Regions from separate parts of the Homo sapiens genome. Here region 2 is linked to region 1. Evidence: fine-mapped expression QTL. A gene starts in region 1. The other region holds a variant in brackets. All regions are shown on one strand. Distances are between the middles of the regions.

Region 1 (4,385 bases):
TTGAATTTATTCACATATTTTGAAAGGAGTGCCACCTTGTTAGCTAGCTATCAGGACTCAAAGAAGATATGGTTCTTGGCCTTGGTGAGCCCCCAAAATGCCACAGCCCAGCCTAACATTTTTAAAGCTTCACTTTTGATCCTTAGAATTCATGCCTTCATTCATTCAATATCCTTTTTTTTTTTTTCTTGAGACACAGTCTCGCTCTATCGCCCAGGCTGAAGTGCAGTGGCACGATCTTGGCTCACTGCAACTTGCAACCCTCCTGGGTTCAAGCGATTCTCCTGCCTCAGCCTCCCGAGTAGCTGGGATTACAGGCGTGCACCAGCACACCCAGCTAATTTTTGTATTTTTAGTAGAGACGGGTTTTCACCATGTTGGCCAGGCTCCCAAAGTGCTGGGATTACAGGCGTGAGCCACTGTGCCTGGCCAATATCCATTTATTGAACCCCTATCTATGCACACTCTGCTAGACTTGGGGATACACATCCAGAACACACACAGCCCCTGCCCTGAGGTTGTTCACTGTCCCTGAGCCTAGCAGGTGTGACAAGTGTTGTGGTACAGGGCCCCCAGCGTGCTCTGAGCATGACAGGAACGTCCCGAGGTGGGAGTGGGGCTGGGGGCAGCACAGGTGCACAGGAGGGGCGTTGAGGTCAGAGTTTCTCCAGTAAAGAAGTAGAGGGTGTGAGCGGGCAGAGTGCGCACAAGGGTCAAGGCTGAAAGGACCTGACTCTTTGGTGGCCTTCCTCTCTGATATGGCTGGAATGATAAGCAGGAGCTCATCACTAATGCCTCACCCGCAGGGTTTTAAGTGGATCTTGGTGCCCTGGCCCAGGGGGCACTGGCGTTTTCAAGCGGAGGATGTGTTCCAATTTGCCTTTTAAGAATGTCTAGGCCGGACGCACTGGCTCACGCTGTAATCCCAGCATTTTGGAAGGCCGAGGCGGGCGGATCACTTGAGGTTAGGAGTTCGAGATCAGCCCGACCAACATGGTGAAACCCCATCTTTACTGAATTAGCCAGGCGTGGTGGTGCCCACCTATAATCCAAACTACTCGGGAGGCTGAGGCACGAGAATCACTTGAACCTGGGAGGTGGAGGTTGCAGTGAGCCAGTATCGCACCACTGCACTCAGCCTGGCCGACACAGCGAGACTGTGCCTCAAAAATAAAATAAAATAAAATAATGTCTAGTCGGAGAGCCGGGGAGGTGGCGCGCGCCTGTAATCCCAGCCACCCAAAGAGCTATGGTCTCGGCACTGCACTTCAACCTGCGAGACCCAGTCTCAAAAAGAAAAAAAAAAGTTTAGTCGGCAGCCAGCAAGGCGGGACGCTGGGAGGCCAGTTCAAAGAGTGTCGTCCCAAGTGCCGGAGGGACGGAGCTGTAGCCCCCAACCTGAGCTGGACCCGAGGGTGGCGGTGACTAGGACTCTCAAGCCCTACAAAGCTGCTCCCAGGAACCCGAGGCCTCAAGGCTGGATCTGAAAGAATCGGAATGAAGACTCGGAATGAAGAGTCCCAGGGGAACAAGTCCTGTGTGACTCCGCCGCCAGGACGACCTTCCAGAAAGCAGACTTCTCCGCTCCAGTTCTAGCGGAGACGGAGAGAGTGAACCAAGAACCATCATCCTGCGCCAGCCAGGGGCAAGCGGAGCCTCAGTTGCTCCCAAACCCACGCCCGCCTCTCCTTCCTCTCCTCCTCCACAGGCTTTCATTTATTTACTTAAGTATTTTTAGCCCAGTAGCAGTTTCCAGTCCAGCGGCTCCTCAGATCTTTCGCCGGCTGTCCGCCCCACCTGTCCGTCAGCACGCGAGCCAATGAGCGGGCGAGGGCAGCGCTGTGCCCCGCCCCTGAGCCGGCAGCCCAGTCTCGGGAGCCCGGGGCCGCCTGGGCCTCCTGCCCGCCGCGCTCGAGTCTGGAGCTCGAGAGTGACACTGCGCATGTGCGGGCGTCCTGCGCATCTCCTACGGCCTCCAGGACAGAGGAACCGGGGGAGGCAGGGGGAAAAGGCCGGCCCAGCAATTCCCCTACCCCCCGGTCCCACGTGTACCCTCCTGGCCTGGGTCGCCCCAGCCCACGGGGAGCGGGCGGAGTCCTGGCCCACGAAGCCTTGTCACCTGGCGGGCGAATCCGCAAGCGGAGACTTGTCTTTAAAGGGCTTTGGGCCGGGCGCGGTGGCTCATGCCTGGAATCCCAGCACTTTGGGAGGCCGAGGCGGTGGATCACGAGGTCAGGAGTTCAAGACCAGCCTGGCCAAGAAGGTGAAACCCCGTCTGTACTAAAAATACAAAAAAAAAAAAAAATTAGCAGGGCGTGGTGGCGGGCGCCTATAATCCCAGCTACTCGGGAGGCTGAGGCAGAGAATTGCTTGAACCCGGGAGGCGGAGGCTGCAGTAAGATCGCGCCACCGCACTCCAGCCTGGGCGAGAGAGGAGACTCTGTCTCAAAAAAAAAAAGGGAGCGGGGGGGCTTTGGTCTGTGCAGGAGCTTCCCGGAGATGCTTTAGAGCTGCGTTTGCAAAGTGCAGCGCCAAATGCTGCAGAGAGGTGGGAGTCAGAGGAGAGGAGGACTGCGGTCCCAAACCCTAGCAGTTTAGTCTGTCGGGGAGGAGAGGAAGGGAACCCGGAGAGCACTTGTAAGCTACAGTGCTGAATATGAGGAGGTACTGAATTGAGCATCAAATGCTGAGAGTTAAAGAATTCTCCCTAGGGACCAGCCAGCTATTATCTGGAAGCAGTGAGTTTGGATAGAGCCTGGAAGCACGGGTAGCATTGCTGTTAGCAATAAAAGGTGAACGTGTTAACATTCACTGCAATTCGTTGTATACACTATTAAAATATAACTTGCTCAATTCAGGGGCGGTGAGTAAAGTAAAGGAGTCAGAGCTCCTAATTATTGGAGAGGCCAGGGAAAGCTTCACAGAATTCAAGCTTGAGTAGGGTTTTGTTGAAAGGGAAGGATATACAAAGCATTGAATGTATGCAAAGTTCAGCTAAAGTAAACAGTCCTTTTTGTGTTAGGCAGAGTGCTAAAAGTACTCTGGCTATAACGAAGACTACAACACCACCTTCAGGGACTTTAGCGTCTGTGGAGACTTGAACATCTAATGTTAGAAATATTCTCAGAATTCTGAGACAGCCACCTAGCCTGGCCTTCAGGGAGATCTTCCAGGAAGAGGAAATAACACAGAAAGTGTGGTATATTTAAATATACCTAGCCAGGCGCGGTGGCTCACACCTGTAATCCCAGCACTTTGGGAGGTCGAGGCCAGTGGATCAACCGAGGTCAGGAGTTCGAGACCAGCCTGACCAACATGGTGAAAGCCGTCCCTACTAAAAATACAAAATTAGCCAGGCATGATGGCGCATGCCTCTAATCCCAGCTACTTGGGAGGCTGAGGCAGAAGAATTGCTTGAACCCAGGAGGCAGAGGTTGTAGTGAGCCAAGATTGTGCCATTGCACTCCAGCCTGGGTGACAGAGCCAGACTCCGTCTCAAAAAAAAAAAAAAAAAAAAGGTTGAGGGCATGGTGAGGGAGGGGACTTTTTTTAAAAGCTCTTCAGGAGATAGGGTTGAGAGAACCTGTTTGCTGGTGTCTAGGGTGACTACCAAGTTTGAGGCTGTGGTAACTAAGGTAAGTGTTACAGACTGAATGTTTGTGTACCCCCAAATGCATTTGTTGAAATCCTAGCCCCCAGTGTGATGGTATTAGGAGGTGGGGCCTTTGGGAGGTAATTAGGTCATGAGGGTGGAGCCCTCATAAATGGGATTAGTGCTCTTATAAAAGGGACCCCAGAGAGTTCTCTAGCTCTTCCTGCCCTGTGAGATACAAGAAGTTGGCAGGCTGCAACCTGGCAGAGGGCCCTCACCTGAGCCTGACCATGCTGGCACATGATCTAGGACTTCTAGCCTCCAGAACTGTGAGAAATACATTTCTGCTGTTTAACCCACCCTGTCTATGGTACTTCACAGCTCATACTGACTAAGGCAGCAGAACATACAGGAGGAAGAGGAGCAGGTTTCACAGAGGGAAGACATGAGTTCAATTTTGGACTTCTCAGTAGTCGGTGTCCTCAGTGGTAGCAACTTCAAACGGAAGGTGTCAAAAGTCAAATTCTGGAGAGTTGAGTATGAATGGGAGATGAAGAAAAGGAGGCAGCACTTGTAGCCTGCTCTTAATGTATTTCTGCACTCTACACTAGCAGCCTATTACACAGGACACTTGGATGTCTCCTAGATATCACAAATTCAGCTTCAAAAATGAATTCTTCTAGGTATATGGAAAGATGTGAAGAAGAAAATATAGCAATAAGTTAGGTGGTAGGTATATGGTTGTTTACTGTACAATCTGTCAGTTTTTCTGTATTTTTGAAATTTTTCATGA
Region 2 (4,385 bases), 27 kb after region 1:
CTATAATCCCAGCACTTTGGGGGCGGATCACCTGAGGTCAGGAGTTCGACACCAGCCTGGCTAACATGGTGAAACCCCGTCTCTACTAAAAATACAAAAATTAGCCGGGCATGGTGGTGGGTGCCTGTAATTCCAGCTACTTGGGAGGCTGAGGCAGGAGAATCGCTTGAACCCAGGAGGTGGAGGTTGCAGTGAGCCCTGAGATCACACCATTGCACTCCAGCCTGAGTGACTGGAGCAAGACTCCATCTAAAAAAAAGAAGAAAAAAGGCCAGGCGTGGTGGCTTATGACTGTAATCCCAGCATTTTGGGAGGCCAAGGCGAGTGGATCACGAGGTCAAGAGATCGAGACCATCCTGGCCAACGTGGTGAAACCCTGTCTCTACTAAAAATACAAAAAAAATTAGCTGGGCATGGTGGCGTGCACCTGTAGTCCCAGCTACTCGGGAGGCTGAGGCAGGAAAATCGCTTGAACCCAGGAGGCGGAGGTTGCAGTGAGCTGAGATCACGCCACTGCACTCCAGCCTGACAACACAGCGAGACTCCATCTCAAAAAAAAAAAAAAAAAAAGCCAGGTGCAGTGGCTCACACCTGTAATCCCAGCACTTTGGGAGGCCGAGGCAGGTGGATCACAAAGTCAAGAGATCAAGATCAGCCTGACCAACATGGAGAAACCCTGTCTCTACGAAAAATACAAAATTAGCTGGACGTAGTGGTGCAGGCCTGTAATCCCAACTACTCGGGAGGCTGAGGCAGGATAATCGCTTGAATCAGGGAGGCAGAGGTTGCAGTGAGCTGAGATCATGCCATCGCATTCCAGCCTGGGCAACAAGAGCAAAACTCCGTCTCAAAAAAAAAAAGCAGAAAGAAAGAAAAGAAAGGGCCGGCGCGGTGGCTCACGCCTATAATCCCAGCACTTTGGGGGCGGATCACCTGAGGTCAGGAGTTCGACACCAGCCTGGCTAACATGGTGAAACCCCGTTTCTACTAAAAATACAAAAAATTAGCCAGGCGTGTTGGTGCACGCCTGTAATCCCAGCTACTCAGGAGGCTGAGGGAGGAGAATCACTTGAACTTGGGAGGCAGAGGTTGTAGTGAGCCGAGATTGCGCCACTGCACCCAGCTTGGGCAACAAGAGTGAAACTCTGTCTCAAAAAAAAAAGGAAAAGAAAGAAAAAGGAGAGAAAGAAAGAAAGAAGAAAGAAAAAAAGAAAGAAAGAGAAAAGAGGGGAGGAGAGAAGAAAGAAAAGAAAGGTCCTGTACAGATGGCAGCATCATTTTTTCCCCCAATTCCTGACACAGAGGCTGAGCCATTATTGTCAACCTACTGTGAAAAGACATTATGTCCTCTCTGTCACTGGCAAATCCTGACCAGAGTCTTGTTGGACTCTGAGAGCATCCCCAGCAAAGAACTCTGAGCATCACAGAGGAGCAGCATGAAGTCTTCCTTTAATGCAGTCTTGATCTACCTAGAACATCAGCTACAAAATAATTTTGCACAGCATCATTAACAATAGTGCTGCCTTCGTTTTGTATATGACTCCACAGCTTTCATACATATTCCATCAGTTGTATTTGGGGTTTTATGAAAACCTGTGAAGTTGGCCAGGCACGGTGGCTCACGCCTGTAATCCCAGCACTTTGGGAGGCTGACGCGGGTGGATCACCTGAGGCCAGGAGTTCGAGACTAGCCTGGCCAACATGGTGAAACCCCGTCTCTACTAAAAATACAAAAATTAGCTGGTGGTGGCACATATTTGGGAGGCTGAGGCGGGAGAATTGCTTGAACCTGGGAGGCGAGGTTGCAGTGAGCCGAGATCCTGCCATTGCACTCCAACCTGGGCGACAGAGCGAGACTCCATCTCAAAAAAAAAAAAGAAAAAAATATAGGAGTATATCTTTTTTTGTTGTTTTTGTTTTTTGTTTTGAGATGGAGTCTCGCTCTGTTGCCCAGGCTGGAGTATAGTGGCGTGATCTCGGCTCACTGCAACCTCCGCCTCCCAGGTTCAAGCAATTCTC[T/C]TGCCTCAGCCTCCCGAGTAGCTGGGACTATAGATGCCCTCAACCATGCCCAGCTAATTTTTGTATTTTTAGTAGAGACGAGGTTTCACTATGTTGGCCAGGCTGGTCCTGAACTCCTGACCTCGTGATCCACCCGCCTTGGCCTCCCAAAGTGCTGGAATTACAGGCGTGAGCCACCGCGCCTGACCGAGTATATCTTTTTTAAAAAAGAAAATAAATAAAGAAATAAAGTCTACATAGCGGTGACTGGGAGACCAGAATATCCCATTCATGTCTTGGTCCTCATCGTACCAAATGGATCACATCCTGTTTCTTCATCATTTCATCAGGTGCAAGGCAGTTGGGCCGTGATGGGGCAGGACAACAACCAGAAAATGCTGGAATGTGGCCAGAGCTGAGGCAGTGCTCACCCCACACACATTCATTAAATGCCTACTGTGTGCAGAGTGAGGTGGTGAATACAAAGGTAAACACAGCAAGGTGGTCTCACCCTCCAGTCCCTGGAAGAGCACAGGTCACCACTGGCTGCTCTCATAGCAGCTGCCTAGTATGGGCGGCTGCGTCAAGCCAAAGCGGAATGGTCAGAAGAACAGCATCAGTGAGACAAAACAGTGGAGACAGCATGACAGGACACGGACTCAACGGCTGGAAGCCAGCCTGGCGCGCAGCAATTGGGAATGGGGTGTCTGTTTTGGAACAAAGGAGTTGAGCAACCATGATTCGGAGAGGCAGAAAAGCAAACACCAGGCTTTCCGAAAATGGTTGCTATGACCACAAACCTAAAGACAGACAGCTGCATGTTCATTTCTGGGCCCCAACTGTACATATTATTGGTATTAGCATCAGCATTATCTTGGAATAGGGACAACGTCTTATATGAGGCATTCATTCAAAATGTTATTTAATTTATAAAACTTCCTTATGCTACTGCCAGGGGAAAAAATTATTAAGTAAATTCAGCTAAATTTCTGGAAATTTTATTTGCATACAATGTATACAAATAACAGCGCCTAATTTAGAATCCTGGCTCTCTCACTTTCTAGCTGAGAGATTAGAGACAAATTAGTGGATTTGTCTTTGTGTCTTTGTTTGCAAATCTGTAAATGGTGTAACAGTCTCCACCTCACAGGGTTACAATGAGGACAGAGTGAGGTAATGTGTGTAAAGCTCTTCTAACAGCCCGGTCGGGGGCACAAAGTAAGTGCTATATACATGTTAGCTATATTATTATTATTAAATCAGTATGTTGAGCTCAAAGTCAGACCAATGTCAGCCTGTCCCCTCTTTTTTTCCTTATCTGTCCAATCTTTAGAGATAATTTTGGATGAACATCTACTTTTCTTTTTTCTGAGATGGAGTCTCGCCCTGTCACCCAGGCTGGAGTGCAATGACACGATCTCGGCTCACTGCAACCTCCGCCTCCCGGGTTCAAGCAATTCTCCTGCCTCAGCCTCCCGAGTAGCTGGGATTACAGACGCCTGCCACCACGCCTGGCTAATTTTTGTATTTTTAGTAGAGACGGGGTTTCACCATGTTGGCCAGACTGGTCTCAAACTTCTGACCTCAGCGATCTGCCCACTTCGGCCTCCCAAAGTGCTGGGATTACAGGCTGGATGAACATCTACTTATTACATAATCTTTTTAAAAACGTCTCTCTTTTTTTTTTTTTTTTTTTTTTGAGACGGAGTTTCACTCTTGTTGCCCAGGCTGGAGAGCAATGGTGCAATCTGAGCTCACCGCAACCTCCGCCTCCCAGATTCAAGTGATTCTCCTGCCTCAGCCTCCCAAGTAGCTGGGATTACAGACATGCGCCACCACGCCTGGCTACTTTTCTATTTTTAGTAGAGACAGGGTTGGTCAGGCTGGTGTTGGACTCCCAACCTCAGGTAATCCGCCCACCTCAGCCTCCCAAAGTGCTGGGATTACAGGTGTGAGCCACAGTGCCCGGCCTTAAAAACTTCTTTTTAAAAATTATTTATGTATTTGTTTATTTTTGAGACAGGGTCTTGCTATGTTGCCCAGGCTGGTGTCAAATTCCTGGGCTTAAGCAATCTACCCACCTCAGCCTCCCAAAGTGCTGGGATTACAGGTGTGAGACACCGCACCCAGCCTAAAAACTTTTTATCCTGGAGACAGTGTCCACAAACTTAATCTGGTATTTCACAAGTTGCTGAGGCATAGGAAACTCTTTTCTTTCTACAATATTTTCAGACCACCAAGCCATGAGAGGTGACAGCAGTAGCAAATCTCATGAGCTCTTCGGTGAGCAGCCATTTCTTAGTGGAAAGGACTGTATCTGACCTTCAGTTCTCAGCAGTTACAAATGTCAAAGGCAGACCTTTTCTCTCCTCCCAGGCTCCCCTCCC

Which allele goes with the higher level. Alleles are on the strand shown, and positions count from the first base shown. SD is a standard deviation of normalised expression in the study named.
For the expression in sigmoid colon of the gene that starts at base 1,953 in region 1, allele C in region 2 goes with a higher level than allele T (small effect, 0.39 SD a copy in GTEx).

Evidence for each region. PIP is the estimated chance that this variant, and not a neighbour inherited with it, causes the effect. A credible set is the group of variants that fine-mapping cannot tell apart.
Region 2: its variant is the best candidate, but not a certain one, in a credible set for the expression of FALEC in sigmoid colon (GTEx, PIP 0.51).

What each region holds. Positions count from the first base shown.
Region 1 is chr1:150,513,800-150,518,184 of GRCh38, forward strand. It overlaps FALEC (focally amplified lncRNA regulator of ECM1), which reads left to right and starts at 1,953. Exons shown (of 6, transcript NR_186305.1): 1 at 1,953-2,263; 2 at 3,974-4,321. RefSeq lists enhancers at 1,398-1,467, 1,538-1,687 and a silencer at 1,778-2,147.
Region 2 is chr1:150,541,249-150,545,633 of GRCh38, forward strand. No RefSeq gene overlaps it. Among named protein-coding and RNA genes, the nearest start is that of ADAMTSL4, 6.0 kb to the right of the region's middle. RefSeq lists enhancers at 2,058-2,558, 2,559-3,059 and a cis regulatory region at 4,153-4,385. The variant T/C (reference allele first, on the strand shown) is at 2,020.